Regions from separate parts of the Homo sapiens genome. Here region 2 is linked to region 1. A link means that fine-mapping ties the variant in region 1 to the expression of a gene that starts in the linked region. Tissue or cell type: testis. Region 1 holds a variant in brackets; the other region holds the start of a gene. All regions are shown on one strand. Distances are from middle to middle.

Evidence for each region. PIP is the estimated chance that this variant, and not a neighbour inherited with it, causes the effect.
Region 2: it holds the start of DAW1, and the variant in region 1 is fine-mapped to the expression of DAW1 in testis (GTEx, PIP above 0.99).

What each region holds. Positions count from the first base shown.
Region 1 is chr2:227,901,786-227,913,624 of GRCh38, forward strand. DAW1 (dynein assembly factor with WD repeats 1) reads left to right here. Exons shown (of 13, transcript NM_178821.3): 7 at 1,217-1,324; 8 at 3,144-3,250; 9 at 4,451-4,553; 10 at 5,353-5,467. Among named protein-coding and RNA genes, the nearest start is that of DAW1, 36 kb to the left of the region's middle. The variant C/T (reference allele first, on the strand shown) is at 6,645.
Region 2 is chr2:227,865,789-227,874,065 of GRCh38, forward strand. DAW1 (dynein assembly factor with WD repeats 1) reads left to right here and starts at 5,843. Exons shown (of 13, transcript NM_178821.3): 1 at 5,843-5,941. The coding sequence starts at 5,902. It also overlaps the pseudogene CRIPTOP2.

The sequences.
Region 1 (11,839 bases):
GGAAGAAGAGTTGCTAAGAGGGGTACATAAGATCAAGGGAGGATTTACTCAAACATATTTACAGGCCACTGAAAAGGATCTAGTCTACAGGGAAGGAAAAGTTAGTGGGTGCATCTCCCCTAGGTGTACAGGGAAGGGGTTCTTAGAATGGGCGGAAGGATGCCTCTACATCCGAGACTGAGGGGAAGGAAAGTAAGATCAGGAAGTTCCTACCTGACAGGAGAGTTTTCTCAGGGAAGTGGAAGGAGGCCAGGTTGTCTGTTGAGGAGGGGTGAGGATGGAAGTAGAGGCAGGAGTGGGGAACAGGAGAATGTATAGAGCCAGAAGCATCTTAAGCAAAGTAGGGAACAGTGCTGAGGACTCTACTGAGGACAGAGGCATGAAAGAGCAATACTAGTAACTTTCTGTGCTGTTCTCTTAAGCTACCTTGGCTGGGTGATGAGGCAGGGAAGCAGGTGGTTGGATAAAATCCTTGCCTGATAAAAGTTAATGTTAGCAGTTGGTACGGAAGGTGCATCAGATAGATAGGGGCTAACAGTGTCGAGGATACTGGGAGGAGTGATGCTTCCGGGGTGTCAGTTGAATGGGGAGGATGGACCAGGAGAAAAGGCAGATGTCTCAATGAGATGAAAGATCTTCTGGGGGAGGGGAGTGGGAAGGGAAATTTTGACCCTGGATTGGTGAATTGGTGGTGAATCTTCTAGAGAAGATAATACTAAGGTCCATGGTGTGGCCATGGGAGAGACTACTGAACAGTTGTCCGGGGCATGGGTCTGGGGGAACTGGATGGATTGCCCACGTGAAGGCCACCTAAGACTTGGCATTGAGACTACAAGCCAGTAGTCTCTTGATGAGTGAGGGGCTGTGATTGGAAGGACTGTGGTGACAGCAGCAAGGAGAAGGAGAGCCATATAGCACGGATCTTAAAGGAGGTGGGCTTCACTTTTGTTCTTGTTCTTCTGTGGTCTGGAAGTGGCAAAGGGAGCTAGTGCCCCTCCAAGCCTTAGCTGGGTGCTGTGGGAGAACAAGCAGCCTCTTTTCAAGAGGAGGACTCTGAAGGACTCAACCTGGGGGTAGCAGGTCACACATACGTGGGGTTTTGTACAAAGAATTAGATGGAATCTGGTAAGGTAATTGCATCTGGAAGATTTTCTGTGTATAATTAACACTTTGAAACTCTGTCTTCCTAAAATTTCTCCCATTTTATGTAATTTAGGTGTGTTTATCATTTAACCCTCAAAGCACATTGGTGGCGACTGGAAGTATGGACACAACAGCCAAATTGTGGGACATTCAGAATGGCGAGGAAGTTTACACCTTAAGAGTATGTCAATAATGTTAATAAGCCTGTTATTTGTGTTCATTCTTATTTGTGTTTTTGTTACAAAATGAGCTCTAAGTTGGAGGTTGTTGAGTTGCTGGTTTTCAAATTTTAGTGGTGAAAGAGTGTCCCTACTGGTTTCCTGGCTATTCCAAAAGACTTGGGTGGAGGTGCTGGGGAAGTCCAAGGAGCTTTTTATTTTGACTAACTTTAGTCTGCAAAACACATAAACTATATCTTAGAACCCATCACCATCTCTCTGGCTAAAAGGAAAGCAGGTGGAGGCTGGCACTTTTGGAAGAGGCAGAACTGGAGAACCATGACAAGAGAATCCTTAGAGCAATGACTGTGAGCACACTCTCCTCTGCCCGCTGGTCTTTCAGCCATCCTGTATCACAAAAGTCTGAAATGACAGAGGGGCAAGTGACCAGAGGGGAAAAGGCCAAAGGGCTCTGCCCACAGAGTGAGTGCTGTGGGGCATGCTCTTGTGTGTCACCACCATGTGCCCAGCACCTCCCCGCCATCTGTCACTCTCCCCTTCCTCCCACCCTCCCCTTCCTCCCACCCTCCCCTTCCTCCCACCCTCCCCTTCCTCCCACCCCAGCCCAAGTCACTGCAACAAAACTAGAGTGACCCTATGTTGTAATCAGCAGGAACAGCCAGATGGGAAATTCAGTTTCCTTGTCCTTTCAAAATTATAAGTACATTTTTAAAAACATGATTTGTTTCCTCAGAAAGCTTTTTCTAAGCAAGTTAAAACATGGACTGCAAAAGAAAAAAAATCACCATTTTAAAATAACAGTAATGGCTTTTCTTTCTTAAATCTGAGTATCTAGCATTATTAGTGTAAGTATACTCTTTCTGTTCTCAGTTCTTTTTTCGTTTTTTTTTTAAATCATTACTATCTCTTCCTTCAGGCAAATGTGCAGGGAAAGGTCCCCATTAATGCCACACTTTCAACTAAAATGACTCCTTTTACAGACGTGCCTAAGAGCACTCAATGGGAGGGGTCCTGCTTGGCACACCTGTCTGCGCCAGAGAGTGAATTTGTTTTGCGTACTTAGAATTCGAATATTCAACTACATTTCATTTTGTCCTTTGAAATCAATCAGAAAAATCAAGTTATAATTCAACTTTTCTAATTCTTTGTATTATTTAAAAGTATACTTATGTTAATTTACTAAAATAATGAAGGAATCAAGGGATATATGTACTCCAACCAGGATCCCCTTATCAGAGTTCCAGAATCTGCTGTGGAGAGTGGTTTCTTCCCATTATCTTACAGTTTGATTCACTAACACTAGACAGTAACCAGCTGAAAGTCAGGCCAAAGGCAGGAATTTATCAATCGATTTCATGTCAAGTTATCTTAATAATTTCCTTTTTAAAAGTAATTAGTTTTATTTCATACACTGTTTACTTTTGCATACCATGTGTTATTAGCCCATGGCATCCCCTGCTCTGTAGTGTTTCCAAGGCAGTGTAAAGGACGTCCTCTAGTTTCCCCAAATACAACCTCTTTCTTTTGTTTTTAATCAATATTATTAAGTTAAATGAACTAGCTGTGTGTAAGTCACTAATTTTTAGTAAACTCACAGTATTGTGCAGCCATTACCAAAACCTAGTTTTCAAACCTTTCCATCACCCCAAAAAGAACCCTGTGCCCACGTGCAGACACTCCCCATCCTCACCCCAGCCAACCGCTGACCTCCGTTCCTAGAGCTCGGCCTTCTCCAGCATTTCCTTTTAGACTATGATATTGTACGCTTGCAGAAATTGTTTTATCTGCAGGTATACTTGACAGTATCTGCTCTTTTTCTAGGGACATTCTGCCGAAATCATCTCCTTGTCATTTAACACCTCAGGAGACAGAATCATCACGGGGTCTTTTGATCATACCGTTGTAGTGTGGGACGCTGATACTGGAAGGTAATTCTTAGTTCTTAAGAATTGTTTTAACCTGGATCAGGGGGTTCAGAAAACCCTCTGTTATTTTTTAGTTTAAGCTACTATCTATTAACTCTGCTTTGGATTCCATAAAAATAGGACATATTGAAAATGTAAATTAATTCATTCTTTAATGATATTTCTGATTCACAAAATATGTGCATTCTTTGAATTCTGAGCAAATAATGACAAACAGCAACATAAAAGGAGAATGTTAGCAATAGTCTGGTTATATAGCTATTATTTATTTCATGGATAATCAGATTTCAATGGCTTGTCATTATGTTAGGCAGGAATATCATGTATAAATAAAAACTCTTAGTTAATTTCCCAAATTAATTTAGTCCAAGAACTTCAATTTCCTTCCTAATGATTTTTGGTCCTAGTTGCTAGGAAGTTAACTAAATTAGCATATTTGTGTTGGAAAACTCTACTCTTGGATTTGTCTGTGATTTAATAGAGGGGCTAATTATCAGGGGTGCCAACCAAGATGTATGCAACAAGAAATGATAGAGGAAGAAGGACCTTTCAGTTACTTGATGTGTAGTTTCTGAACAACCAGGGGTGCACTCACCCGGTGTAAGACTACTTCTTACGGCCTTTACTATTTGTTACCCATGTCTTTTTGAAATGTTGCCTTAAGTAGCATTATTTTGATAGTTTAAAATCTAAGTACATTTTTGTTGAAATGAAATTATTTATTTAGTTAGTTAGTTTTTGAGACGGAGTCTCGCTCTGTTGCCCAGGCTGGAGTGCAGTGGCGTGATCTCGGCTCACTGCAAGCTCCGCTTCCTGGGTTCACGCCATTCTCCTGCTTCAGCCTCCCGATTAGCAGGGACTACAGGCGCCCACCACCACGCCTGGCTAATTTTTTGTATTTTTAGTAGAGACGGGGCTTCACTGTGTTAGCCAGGATGGTCTCTATCTCCTGATCTCGTGGATCCACCTGCCTCGGCCTCACAGAGTGCTGGGGTTACAAGCGTGAGCCACCGTGCCCGGCTGAAATGAAATTATTGGTAGCTTCTTTTTGAGCAATAGTAGAGCCATATTTGTCATCAAATATATTATTTTGTAAAAACCAGATTTTAGATTAGCTTACACAGATGGGCTTGGCCTCATTATTCATGTGCATATACTGAAGTAAGATATCTTTCACTAGTTTTAATTATTTTTGTGTTGTAGGAAGGTAAATATCTTAATTGGTCATTGTGCTGAGATTAGCAGTGCCTCATTCAATTGGGATTGCTCTCTAATATTAACTGGCTCTATGGACAAAACCTGCAAGGTGAGCAAAATAAATAAATATCTTTGCTTTATATTGTGTCTATACTCTTTACTGTGTCAGATATCCATTGTAACATTAACAGATTTCAAAGATGATATAAAATTAAGATATTAATTTACAAAAAATAGTTGGTAATTTTTAAAATTTCTAGTTTTGGATTTTCCAAATTTGAAGGAATTGTGATGTAGTAAAGCAATTTGAATTGCTTCAAGTATATTAAATATCTTATTTGAGAAGGCATTTTATTTTTATTTAATATCCCACTGTTCATTTATAGAACTTCAATTAGTAGAGTGACCCTCAAGGAGCCTCAAACACAGTGTTTCCTTGTCCCTAAGTTTCTATACTTAAAAAATGGTTACTAAGAGATTATACTATGGAATTATCATTTGTTTATGTAACAAATATAATCTTATAATGTACTTTCCATTTTCTGACATTGTAGTTTTATATCAAGCTCCTAATCATTTGATGTCCTTCCTATAAAAAGAGCACAACTCTTCACCAACCAGTAAAGCATACACGTTGAGATATTTTTTCTTTCTTTAATGTAGTGGCAGATTCTAAATGTCTGACTTTGGTTTTCTCTGTGACTAGAGTGTGCCTTGCTTGATGGTTGGCTGTGGTCTCTGGTCATGAATCAAAGTAAATCTAACTGAACATGCATGAATTACACAAGTGATTTTTGCACAGTTATTTAACCAGCCATAAGCATGTCATGAAGACCACTGGCCATCTTCACACTTCAGACAGAAAGTCATAGTCTTTTTTTTTTTGTTTTTTGTTCTTTTAATTGTAGCTGTGGGATGCTACAAATGGAAAATGTGTGGCAACCTTAACAGGCCATGATGATGAAATACTAGACAGCTGCTTTGATTACACTGGAAAGCTTATTGCAACTGCTTCAGCTGATGGTAGGTGATCTGTTCATTCTTTTAATTTTTGGAGAGATTTATGCTTTGCTTGATAACCATGCATAATTCTACACTATGGGTCATTTCTTTGATGACCAGCTATGATAAAAAACCATGTCTCATCTCTATCGTGACCATGTATGGCACAATAGTGTGTCTATATCATATACCTGATAACCACATGTAATGTTATGCAATGTCTGTGTCACCTCCTACATAACGAGGTATATGAGGTCTTTGTCATCTTCTTAATATCTGTATATGATGCTATATTCTGGGTCATCTCCCTGATTTTTATTATTATTATTATTTTGAGATGGAGTCTCACTCTGTTGCCCAGGCTGCAGTGCAGTGGTGCGATCTCGGCTCAACGCAACCTCCGCCTCCCAGGCTCAAGTAATTTTCCTGCCTCAGCCTCCCGAGTAGCTGGGAATACAGGCATGCACCACCATGCCTGGCTAATTTTTGTATTTTTAGTAGAGACGGGGTTTCTCCATGTTGGCCAGGCTGGTCTCGAACTCCTGACCTCAGATGATCCACCTGCCTTGGCCTCCCAAAATGCTGGGATTACAGGCGTGAGCCACCGTGCCCAGCTTCCCTGATGATTACATATGATGTTACCCTATGTTGGCCTTGTCAACTTAATTACCATCAATGGTGCTATAATCTCCTTTACTATAACCACATGTGCTGTTCCGCTATGTCTACTGCATCTTTGTGATAAGCATACATGATGCTATGCTATACATTGTCTCTTTGATTACCACTGTGATTCTACACTATGTGTCATCTTATTGATAACCATATATAGTGCTATCCTAGGTGTGCTTCAATCCTGTGACAGTCACATGTGACACTACACTATATCTGTCATCTCCCTGTTGCTCACATGTGACATGATATTGTGTCTGTCTTATCGCCTAAGGATCATGTTTATTTCTACACTGTATCTGCATCATCTTGTTGAAAGTTGCATATTATGCTATACTGTGTTTTCATCTACTCCTTTAAAACCACATTTGATGCTGGGCCATATCTGCATCATATCCTTGATAATCATATATGATGCAAAACCATGATCATCTTGCTGACAAATATGTATGATACTAACACTCTGTCCACGTCATCTCGTTGAAGCCACATGCAATGCTATATGATGTTTTTATTATCTCAGTGA[C/T]GACCATCTGTGTTGGTGTACTATGCATGCATCATGTCCTGGATAACATTTTATGATACTGAACAACAAGTCATTCCCATGACAACCATATATGATGTTATATTATGTGTCATCTCTTTGACAAACATATGTGATGATTCATTGTGTCTGCACTATTTCCCTGGCAAGTATTTATGATGCTACTCTATGTCTGCAGCATATTCCTGAAAAACATGTGTTAACACTATACAATTTCTACATTATCTCCCTGACAATTTCCTATTTTACACTAAACTATGTCTACACCATATCCTTGATAACCACATGGTACTATACTATGTCTCCATCATCCTATGTCTCCTTGGCAAGCATATGTGATGCTATACTAAGTCTATGTCATATCGACATCACATACCATGCGTGATGCTATTCTGTGAGGCATAGAATTTGAAGTATGAACTATGTGTCATCTTCCTGAAGATACAGATGATGCTAAACTACATCGATACCATCTACCTGATGACCACGTGTGAAGCTACACCAAGTCTGTTATCTATCTGATGACCACATATGATGCTATATTGTATCTATGTCATGTATCTGACTATGTTTAATTTACACTGTTTTTATCCTCTTTATAATAATGTATGATACTATACTGTATCTTTATCCAATTATTTATAACCATATATGATACTATTCCATATCTTAGTATTTCTTAGAAATCCATGTATGATGCTATAGTATTTATACCTCATTGCCCTGGCCAACATGTCTGCAGGGTCCACTATATCACATCACCACCTTTAGAAAGGTGGTGATATTATCTATCTATCTATCTATCTATCTATCTATCTATCTATCTGTCTGTCTGTCTGTCTCCTATTGGTTCTGTTTTATACTATATATAATTTTATGTATTTTTTATATTATATATTTGTACATTTTTATATATTATATATTTATATGTATTACACTATATATACTATGTATATAATTCTGTTTATAGTATATATAGTATATAACCAATAGTATATAAATACACACACACATATATATAGTATATAACCAATATTATATAAGTATACACACACACATATTTATATATGAAGGCTGAGAAGTCTTGCCATATGCCATCTGCAAGCTGGAGAATCAGGAAAGTCAGTGGTATAATTCAGTGTAAGTCTGAAAACCTAAAAACTTGGGGGGACCAATGGTGTAACTCTTAGTCTGAGGCCAAAAACTTGAGAGAACTGAGGAGGGCACTGGTGTCAGTCTTGGAGTCTGGGGATCTGAGAACCAGAAGCTCGATGACCGAGGGCCAGAGAAGATGGATGTCCCAGCTCCAGAAGAGAGAATTTCATCCTTCCTCCACCTTTTGTTGTATCTGGGTCCTCAATGGATTGGATGATGCCTGCCCACATTGGTGAGGGTGGCTCTTATTTACTCAGTCTAACATCCTCACAGACACACCCAGAAACAATGTTTTACCAGCCACGTGGGTATCCCTTAACACAGTCAAGTTGACACATAAAATTAACCATCACAATGCCGCACTGTGTGTGTATATCCTGTTACCCACATATGACATTATACTACATCTGCATCATCTCCCTGACAACCAAATACAACATCGTGATGTTTCTGAGGTATCCTAAAACATGTGTTATGCGTACCTTATTCTTTGATAGTCATATATGATATTGTACTATGACAATTTCCTTGATGATCATGTATGATGCTATATAATATATGCATCATGGCCAGGTGTGGTGGCTCATGCCTGTTATTTCAACACTTCGGGAGGCCAAGATTGGAGGATCGCTTGAGGCCAGGAGTTTGAGATGAGCCTGGGCAACATAGTGAGACCCCATCTCTACAAAATTAAACAAAAATTAGCTAATTAAAACAAAAATTAGTCAGGTGTGGTGGCATGCACCTGTAGACCTAACTACTCAGTAAGCTGAGGAAAATAACCTGAGCCCAGGAGGAGTTCAAGGTTACAGCGAACTATGATTATGCCACTATAATCCAGTCTGAGTGACAGAGTGAGACCCCATCTTCTTGATGAATATATTTGTGGATGAACACACACACACACACACACACACACACACCCCTCATATTCTAGACAGCCATATGTGGTGTTACATTATTTGAAATGTATTGGACAATGATGTGTGATGTTATATTATTACTATATCACCCCTTTAACAACCCCATAAGATGCTATATGTTACTTTATACTATTTCGGCATCATATTCATAATAACCATTTATTACACTAGGCTACAATTAATCTCCAGGACCTACAAATATGATACTACACTATGTCCATGCCATTTGGAAAACAGGGTATGATGATACAATATTTTTGCATCATTTCCCTGACTACTATTTATGATGCTGCAGTATGTCTGCTTCATTTTCATGATAAGCACCTGTGACATTACAACATATCTGTGTCGAATCCATGGTATCTTCATATGACACAAAATTATGTGTCATCACCCAGATACTTTTTTTCTGCATCCAATCATCCATGAGACCCTGATGTCTTGTATGAAACTATGCTATGTGTCATCTCCCTGATAACATATAACACCGCCCTATATCTGCATTATCTCTCTGACAACCTAAGTAAGCTTATACTATTTTTTGAGCCATATCCTTGACAATTGTATATGAAGCTATACTATGTCTCATCATGTTTTTGGCAATGGATGAAACTATACTATGCTTGCATATATTTAAGAATCATGTATAGTTATATATATATGTATACACATACATATATATGTGTATATATACATACATATGTGTATATATACATATATACATATATACACGTGTATATACACATATACACGTGTATATATACATATATACACGTGTATGTATAAGCATATATACATATATACATGTGTATATATACACATGTGTATATATAAAATTATACATGATTATATATATTATATATATATTACATTCTGAGATATTGTGAATTAGGACTTCAACATATGAATTTTAAAAGGACACAATTCAGCATATAATAGCACATATGACATACTGTGTGTTTGCTGCTTCTGCCTGACAACTGCATATTATTTTATGTTTTTATCATCTTCTTGAAACCACTTATATTACACTGTAACTTCATCATGCCCTATACAAAGGGCTGTGCTATACCTTATGGGTGACATGGCCTAGTTATTTAAGGATGATGCTATAATATATTTACTTTGTCTCCCTGATGATCATTTTATTTGTAAGAACATGTTTTCATCCTCTCCTTGGCAACAACTTATAATTTCTCCACTATGTCTGTGTCATTGCCTTGATAACCACATGTACTTTCTGTATCATCTTTCTGACTACCACATATGATGCTGTATAACGTATGTGTTATATCCCTGATATCCACATGTGATGCTATCTTATCTCTTACCTCTCTTTAGGACCTTTATGAGATTACACTATGTCTACATCATCTCCCTGATGACCACAAATGGCAGCTACATTACATATGTGCCATCTCTCTGACACTTATGCCCCTATACTATCTGATTCATCTTTCTCATGACCATATATCCTGCTTCACTATGTATAGATCCTTTCATGACAACAATATTTGGCTCTGTGCTGTGTCTGTGTGTCTATACTGTGCTACGCTATGCTCTACTCTTCTATGCCATACCATACCATACTATACTGACTTATGTGTGTACATTGTCTTTTCTGGAACCAAGTATAATGTTACATTCTGCCTCATCTCCATGGTCAACATGTATGATGTTATGCTATATCTATGTCACCTTCTTTCTCTTTTTCTTTTTTTCTTTGAGATGGAGTCTCGCTCTGTCGCCCAGGCTGGAGTGCAGTGGCACGATCTTGGCTCACTGCAACCTGCGCCTCCCAGGTTCAAGCGATTCTCCTGCCTCAGCCGCCCGAGTTATGTCACGTTCTTGGTAATCATGTTTGATGTTATCCGGTGTGTTCATCTCTTTGATCACTGGACGTGATGCTAAACTATGCCTGTGTCATCTGCTGTCAACAATATGGTATGCTACATGCTGTGTTCCTTATCTTCTTGATGATCATATATAATGCTGCACTGTCTAGTATGTCTGTTTCATATCACTGGAGGTCTGGACATTGCTACACTTTGTGTTTGTCATCTCAGTGATGACCGCCTATTCTGCTTCATTTGTATTCTTCATTTCCTTGAAAACAAAAATGTTTCCCTATGTCTGTGTCACCTTGTTGAAAACCATACATAAGCTATACTGCTGTCATCCCCTACCTGTTAATCATGTAGGATGGCATATTCTGGGTTATCTCCTTGATGATCATATAAAAAGCTGCCATGTGTCTGCAATGATAAACATGATAATTGTGGATTGTGCTCTCATACGTTTGCATCTGTATGTCTTAGACAACTATGTATGCTACACTATCACTCCAAATTTCCTTGGCAACCATATATGATGCCACATTTTGGGTCCTATCACTGATGGTCATGTTTGATGCCCCATCCTTGACAGCTATATGTTGTACAATATTATCACTGCTTATAGCATCATAAATGTTACAAAGGAGCTTGAACATTTGGCAAGCATGTATATTGCTAAACTATTTCTCTGTCATCTCCTTTACAATCGCAATCATGTATGAGTCTGTACTATATCTGAATCATCTCCTAGATAACAAAGTGACATGCAATTTTAGGATTCATCTTTCAGAACCTCGCATGAGAAGATCATCTTCTTGATGATGATTTGTGACACTATCCTTTGTTTGGGTCTTGATATCACCACATATTGTGTTAAAACATGACTACATAATATCCTTCATATCGACATGTGATGTTATATTATGTGTACTTCATTTCCTTAATAACTATAGATGATATACTAAGTTACCGCCTTTATAACCATGTGTTATATCTCCCTATTTCTGAGTCATCACCTTGATAACCACATGTGACATTATACTGTGTGTTTCATCATGTTGAAAATCACAGATAATGCTTTTCTCCTTGATAACCACATATGATGCCTGATATTTATATGGACCAGCTCCTTTGTGACATTTATGATGCCATAATATAGGTTATTTCCATGAGGAAAACCCACAGTGCTGCATTCATGCATGTCGTCTCCTTGATATTCATGTATAATGCTATCCTATGTGCCATTTTAAAATTCCCATATGTG
Region 2 (8,277 bases), 38 kb before region 1:
TACTTTTGGTAGAGACAGGGTTCCACCACGTTGGTCAGGCTGGTCTCAAACTCCTGACCTCAGGTGGTCCACCGCCTCGGCCTCCCAAAGTGATGGGATCACAGGCGTGAGCCACCTCACCTGGCAACCTACAATCATTTCAAACTCACCCGAAGTCTGATTCTTTCTGTGAATAACTCCCTTGCAATATTTTTCAGAATTAGATCTATAACAGCAGCATGCCTGGTACTAGCAGGTCCTTTATACACATTTATTGAATGATACAATTAGTGGCCCTGGCCCTGTTAGTTTTCAAGTCCCAGGTAAGATCAGATGCTTTTGAGTCCTGCTGTGGGGATGGAGGCAGGCAGAGGAAGAGGGTAAATGGCGATGTCTGGTCCACATGCCCCCACCCTGATGCCGTTCCTCCGCTCTGGGGCCTGCTGTGATGAGGTCACCTTTAAACCCTGTGCACAGCAGACTGCTCCTGCCTGGCTCTGAGCATCTGTGCCTTCTCTTTCTAGGAGAGGATTGCATCTCTCTTTTTATCTGCTGCTCTCAGTGAGGCTCCAACACCAGTGATGCAGTCATCTCACTGAAGTTGGTTTTCTCCAGGAGAAGCTGAGCCAAATGGAATCCACCAAGCCCAGCCGCAGCCGGAAGCCCTACTCCTCCCTTACCTTGCCCAGCCTCAAAAATACAGAATCTGGATCCCCCGGACTGACTCCTTCTTCCTTCTCCTCCTCCTCCTCTTTCTCTCTCTCTCTCTATAAATATAAATATATATATGTATAGATATACTACATCCATATATATATATATATATTTTGAGACAGGTTCTGGCTCTGTCACCCAGGCTGGAGTGCAGTGGTGTGATCTCAGCTCACTGAACCACCGCCTCCTAGGCTCAAGCCATCCTCCCACCTCAGCCTCCTGAGTGGCTTGGACTACAGGTGAGTGCCACCACACTGGGCTAATTTTTGTACATTTTGTAGAGATGGGGTTTTTCCCTGTTGCCCAGGCTGGTCTCAAACTCCTGAGCTCAGGCAGTCTTCCTGCCTTGGCCTCCCAAAGCACTGTGATTACAGGCGTGAGCCACCAGAGCCACCATACATATTTTGATTTTAGAGACTACCTCCCTCCCCAACTCCCATCCTCCCAGGTACCTTCTGATTCTTCCCTCAGCCTGATGTCCACTGTCCTCTCTCAGTGCATTGGAGCATCTGAAACCCAATTATGTAGAAAATTCCAGCTTCTTCCCGTGTTGTTTCTGGTTCTCATTTACATTCGAGGATGTGGTTGAACAATCAATTTACTGTTCCTGACAATCAGGGAAGACTGCCTGGAATACACAGAAAGACCTGATCATTGGAGATGAAGCCCAATTTCACTCACTTCGTTCTGTCCAAGCCAGTGTAACCTATTAAGCTAGCACAGTGGCTCTCAAGCTTCATCATTCACTAGAATCACCAGGAAAGCACATTTAAACATGGGTTGTTGGACTTCACCATCAGTGTTTCTGATTCAGTAGGTCGGGACTCGGGGGAGGCGAAAATGTACATTGCTGATGAATTCCTAAGTGATACTGACCCTGCTGGTCCGGGAACCATGCTTGGAGAACTGAAGCCTAGAGTGACTTCACTGTATTAGCCTGGATTGGTTTAGGAGATTAAAATTACTGCTACTCATTATTTAGTTTCTGGTTGTTCAAGGCAGGTCCTGGTGGGAATGTCTTAGTTCAGGCTTCCATAACAAGTACCGTTGACTGGGTGGCTCACAAACAATAGAAACTTCTTCCTCACAGTTCTGGAGGCTGGAAGTCTGAGATCAGGGTGCCAGCATGCCCTTTTATTTTGAAATAAATCAGTATACTTTTCCTAAGAACAAGGACATTCTCTTACATAACCAGTACAATGATCAAAGTCAAGAAACTTAACACTGATAAAATACTATTATCTAAACCACAATCCCTATATACAGAGTTCATCCATTGTCTCAACGATGCCCTTTGTAAGTAATTATTATTCTGGTTCAGGATCTATCATCACTCAGTGCATTTAGTTGTCCTTTTTAGATTTATTTAATCTCAAGTATTTCTTTAGAGTTTTCTTTCCTTGACTGTCAACAGTTATTTTATACAATTTCCTCAGTTTGGTTTGCTCCGATGTTTCCTTATGATTTGAGTCAAGTAATTCATTTTGGGCAGGAATTCCAGAGAATTGCTGTTTTTTTTTGTTTATTGTTTTTTGTTTTTTTTTTTAACAGAGTCTTGCTCTGTTGCCAGGCTGCAGTGCAGTGGCACGATCTCGGCCCACTGCAACCTCCGACTCCCTGGTACAAGCAATTCTCCTGCCTCAGCCTCCAGAGTAGCTGAGATTACAGGCACGTTCCACCACGCCCAGCTAATTTTTGTATTTTTAGTAGAGATGCGGTTTCACCATGTTGGCCAGGATGGTCTCGATCTCCTGACCTTATGATCTGCCCACCTTGGCCTCCCAAAGTGCTGGGATTACAGGCATGAGCCACTGCACCCGGCTTTGCTGTGTTCTCTTCAGTGCATCGTAATACCAGGTAATATATGTCAGTTTGTCCCACTATTGGTGATGTCCTCCCTGACTCAAGTGATCCTTTCACCTCAGCCTCCTGAGTAGCTGGGACAATAGGGGCATGTACCACACCCAGCTAATTAATTTTTTTGTAGAGACCGGATCTTGCCTTGTTGCCTAGGCTGGTCTTGAACTCCTGGGTTCAAGCAATCCTCCTAACTTGGCCTCCCAAAGTGTTGGGATTATAGGTAAGAGCCACCGTGCCCCACCCAAAGATCACGTTTTAAATGGGTGCCCCACCCAAAGATCACATTTTAAATGGCATGAGCACAAGCAATAACATAGGTGACCAAAATCTACCAAAGACTTTCTCATTTCTATAGAGCAAACTCTTTGCCCCTCCCTCCATAAGTCCTTCCAGAGTGTCTTAGTGGCTAGGAGAAAGTTTGAGCTGGGAGAGAGCTTGGATTTCATACGGTTCCCTGTTTTCCAAGTATGGGATGCTTACTACTGGTGAGAAAAAGATGATTTTTTTTTTGCACATTTATATTGGGTTAAATTGTGTCACTTAGTAGCAAAGGCTTTGCCATCTCAACAATCTTTTCAATCTTCTGAACACATCAAGTAGGAAGGCTCAGTTGAGTGCTATTCCGTCTTGTAGCCTGTCTTAACAATCTCAAACAGTTGCTAATTTCCTTCCTTCCCTTCCTCCCTCCCTCCCTCCCTCTTTCTTTCCTTTCTTCCTTCCTTTGTTTACAAAGAAAGGGATGGTTTTGGGTTCAGAGTCTTTGGCAGTATATAGTAATTAGTATATAGTAATATAGTAATATATAGTAGTATATAGTAATTCAATGCCTTTAGGTCAATATATTTTCCATTTTTACTGTGCATACGCATATATACAATGTATTTTAAAAGTTGGCTTTACAATATGTAGTTTTATCATTTGGTTTACAACTAAATATATTGTGAACATTTTCTCTTCTACAACAGTTAAAAGAATTGCATAGCTTGGAGGAAACATAATTTATTAAGCAGTCTTGTTGGGGACATTGAGGTATAATTTTTTTTTTATAAGGAGACTTCATTCTTTTTACAACACCTTTGGGAAAAAAATTGGAGTCCTTGTCTCATATAGCTTTCTATAGATGACGGAAACTTACCCTTCCATTTAGCCTTTTAACTTTCTTCTCTACACCCACCTAATCACCATCAAGTAACCCATTTTATGTTTTCCAACCTCTCTCTCCCATTTGCTTCCTCTTTCCTACCCAGTCTCCCTGCATACATGCAGATGAACTTCCATTCCTTCAGCCCTCTGTTTCCTCCCCTTAAAGAGGCTTTCTTTCCATTTAAAGAGACTATTTTAATTGATTTTTATCAACTCTACTCAAAACTGTATCCTAAGGTCCACATTAGGATTGGTCTTTAATAATCTGAAGATAATATTCAATTGTTTAAAAGAACTTTTAAGAAGACCTTGGTAGAATTACATGTATCAAGAAACATGACTTAGGCACAATGGAGATATGGCTGACTTTCTTTTGAAAAAAGAAGTAGTTTTTGTGGGGAGGGCAGGGCAAAGAGGTAAGAAGTATTTGGTACTACAAGGAAATGTTAGAGACCATTTTGGAAATGTATTCATTATTTTAAGGCAACTAACAAATGATCATCTTTCAGTTAGGACATTATAGCAGCAGCCTTTACTGGTCATGAAATTTGAATGATATCTAAAATCATATTTCTGGAAATAGGTCAATGTCAATTAATAGTAACTTTGTATAGAAAGGCAGATGCCAGCTAGCATATAAAAGTGGTGCATGCAGACGGTGGTAGTTCTGGAGTCCTGGGAGCCATGAGGTGCTCATCCATCACAAGGCCATCACAGCCAGGTAGAAATGCCTGAGGAAAGCAGCGGAGCTGCCCGTGCCAGCATTTACACATGGAACACTTCTTGGGCAGCCGGGTGTCATGGGGCACAGACCCACAATTCTCTTTGCGTACACCGTGCTCACAGTTCCATCCATAGAAGGAGGGGAGGCAGGCACAAAAGGACCCCAGCATGCAGGTTCCCCCATTCAGGCAGCAGGTTCTGTTTGGCTCCTTACTGTCCTGTATCCCCATGGGGGGCACAAGCTGGGAAGACCGAGGACGAATTGCAGGCTCCTCCTGGGGCTGAATGCTGTCATCTCTGAAGGCCAGGTCTCCCTGAGATGGACGCACAAGTTCCCGATGGCTCAGCCTTTAACAAGCAATTCAACGCCTTTAAAAAATTGCCTTTACTTTTACAGTTACTGGCTGTTTACTGAAAATTTCATATAATTTTAAATTTAGAAATAAAAACTTCACAGATGGAATTAAATTTCATATAATTTTCAGTAAACAGCCAGTAACTGTAAAAGTAAAGGTAATTTTTAAGATTACATTTTACTAAGTGAAGTAAAATAAGTGAGTCAATCTAGAGACATTTTAAGAACTTAAAACTTAGGTATGGATCTCTGGAAGAGGTAAGGAGAGATATGGCTCATAGTTGCGCAGATAACACAGGAATGACTCAAGTTTGAGAAATTCCAGTTGAGGCCAAATTCCTTAAAGGAAATTGACAAGCTGGTTGGCTGACTCTGTCTCTCCGCAGGCTTTCTCATGGAAACGTGGCAGGCAAACAACGATGCTGGCAAGAAATTGGACAAGCCGCATGAAGGCCTGGAGAGTTTTAAGCCCAGGTTGAGAGCACAGGTGTAGGCTTTCTGGTGTAGGTTCCGACGCACCTGCCTTCCATTCCCGCCTATCCATTTAGGCTGCGACCTCTGGTAGTTCTCCACTTTCTCTAATTCTGAGTTACTTCATCCTTAAGAAGTGGTGCATAACTCACACCTTGTTAGGATTGTATGAGTATGTGTGCATACACCGTTTAAAGCAATGTAGGGCACAGAGTCAGGAAATGCAAAATATTAAGTTGAGGTCATTTTTCTTTTGGGAGGACAAGGACAGGGCACGGGCTGGGGCCCTAGAGTAGTAATTAGCGATGGGCTTTTCCTCCCAGCCTTCCTTTTGGGAAACGCAGTGTGCTAAAAAAGTGCATGCAGCCCAGGCTGTGGCCTAGGCCGTCGGTTCCCGGCCATGCCTAGCTCCTCTGAGGTCGCCCTTAGTGAGGACACGAGGTGCCCTCACCTCTTTCACTCTAGACACCTCCAGAACACTCGCCCCCCGCGCGCCGGAGCCCCGGGTCGCCACCAACCGCCCGCGGAGCCAGACCTCCCAGCTCTGCGCCCCAGGACCGCGCGGTGCAACCTGCGCATGCGCACCCGCGTCCCGCTGCTGTTTAGCCGTTTCCAAGGCTACGAAGCCCATCGGCCGGGGATAAGAGAGCAAGAAAATGAAGCTCAAGAGCCTCCTGCTCCGGTATTACCCGCCAGGTACGCACCAGCCCGGCCCCGTCATCCCCACGTGGGACCCTGGGCTCCCAGACTGGGAGGGTTTGGGGCGGAGGAGGGCGCAGCCACTGAAAGGCGGCGGGGTCCCCAGGTGGGGCAGGAAGTCGGGCACTTCCCAACCTGTGCCCCTCATTCCTTCAGATGCTGGACTCTTCCTCAAAACATTAACAATTACTCTTTTAGGAATTTAAAGAGTTTAGCTTGACTGTGCATGTCAGTCTGTCTGCATTTATTGAGTGCCTACTGCGTACACGCTTTGTGCTCTCTGCTATGGACCTTTAAAGAAGTTCATAGTGCTTGATTTCAATGAGTGAAGTAATTATGAAATAAATTACTTAACTATTACTTAGTAACATAAGCAATACATTAATTACCTAATCCTTGCCTAACTCTAATTTTAGGTGAGGACATGGTCACCTTTAAAGAATAAGTGACACCCATTGATCACCCAGCTTCTTAGGGACAGAAATAGGAGTGCAATTCTTGGGTTCTAATTCAGAACTCGTCTTCTGAATTAGAAACATCTGCAAAAAAAAAAAAAAAAAGAAAAAAAAGAAAAAAATCTGCAAAACATACCACAAGGCAGAAGATAACCAAATACACTTGCCCAATGAAGTTTGGATAGGAAGTGTCATAAAGATTTCAAAGGAGGGTAAGATACTTTGGACCGGTTTTGTTAAGAATAGCTTTATGAGGGGTGGGACTTGAATTTCAGGTTGAATATCTCACTTTTCCCTGCAACACATCCAACTGCTTGGTCAACATCGCCGATGAGGTATCGCATAGAGATCTCATGATTTCTTTTTTCCAGTCCCATCCCAATCCTGCTGCTTCCTCAAACTGTGCCCTGCCAGTAGAAGGCATCATCACCCAGCCTGTTTTTTGCCAGAAACCTAGGTGGTCACTTTTTGTTTCTCTCCTGTGATCATTCACTGCCTCCCCCACCCCCCCAACCCCCGGCATTCCGTTATCATTCTGCCAGCTCTAAGTCCAAAATATTCTGTGAATCCATCAGATTATCCCTCTTTCCATAGCACAGATTTCTTGGTCTAACATCCCTTCCAGCTGCCAACCTAGTCCAACCCTCCATTCCAGCCACCATTCCCTTTGGCTGAGCCACTCCAGTGGCTTTTCAACTGGATTCCTGGTTTTCACCCTCATCTCCTACAATCCATCTGCCACTAGGAGCCAGTGGGATCTGAATTCAAGATCTCCAATAGCTTCCTATCATGCTTAGAATACGATCCGCAACCTGTGGGATTTGGCTCATTCTGTGCTGCTGACTTCTAAAACTTCACTTGTCTACCCTCACTATACTTCTGACTTCTTTAGCTTGTTCTTCTAAGACTTAAGAGAGGGCCTTTCACTCATTCGTTTTTTGGACCCAGCTTTCCCTAGAGCTAGGAAAAGCTGCTTCCTTTTCTTCATTCAGTTTCAATCAATGTCAACCACCTGAAGAGACTTTCCTACCTATTCAAAGTAGCCTGCACTGATTTTACTCTATGCCATAAAGTGCTTAAAAATTATATTTGTCATCATCCAAAACTCTACTTGTTTTGTTTCAAATGTCTGCCCCTTTCCCATTTAATGTAAACTTCGTGAGAACTAAGATCTTAGTGTGGTTTGATCATTGTAGCACCCTCAGCTTCTAGAAGAGATTTGGTGACACAGAAGATCAGGAATGTTTGTTGAATGAATGTATGGATAAATGGATGTGTTTGATGAGAGGTCAGGTATGGAAATTACTGAAAATAAACACTGAAAATCTTAAGGGATGCTGCTTCTGCCTCCCTGGAAGACCGATCCTGGACAGCTACTTTCTCCAATGGGAAGTTGACATTTGTAGAAAAGACATGCATTTTCTCCTTCATAGAATTCCAGTTAAAATAATATGAGAAAGCTATATATATGACAGTATCTAGATAAATTTATTTTATGTAATTAATTAATTAATTTAATTTTTGAGACAGAGTCTTGCTCTGTCACCCAGGTTGGAGTGCAGTGGTGCAATCCAACTCCACCTCTTGGATTCAAATGATTCTCATCCCTTAGCCTCCCAGGTAGCTGGAATCACAGGTGTGCACTACCAAGCCCAGCTAATTTTTGTATTTTTAGCAGAGACGGGGTTTCACCATGTTGGCCAGGCTGGTCTTGAATTCCTCACCTCAAGTGATCCACCTGTCTTGGACTCCCAAAGTGCTGGGATTACAGATGTGAGCCACTGCATCAGGCTGAGAGTATCTACGAAATTTAAATTAGGCATAGGTAGATAGTATATAGAAAATTTAAAATTAAGACTAATAGTCTGTTTCCTTTAA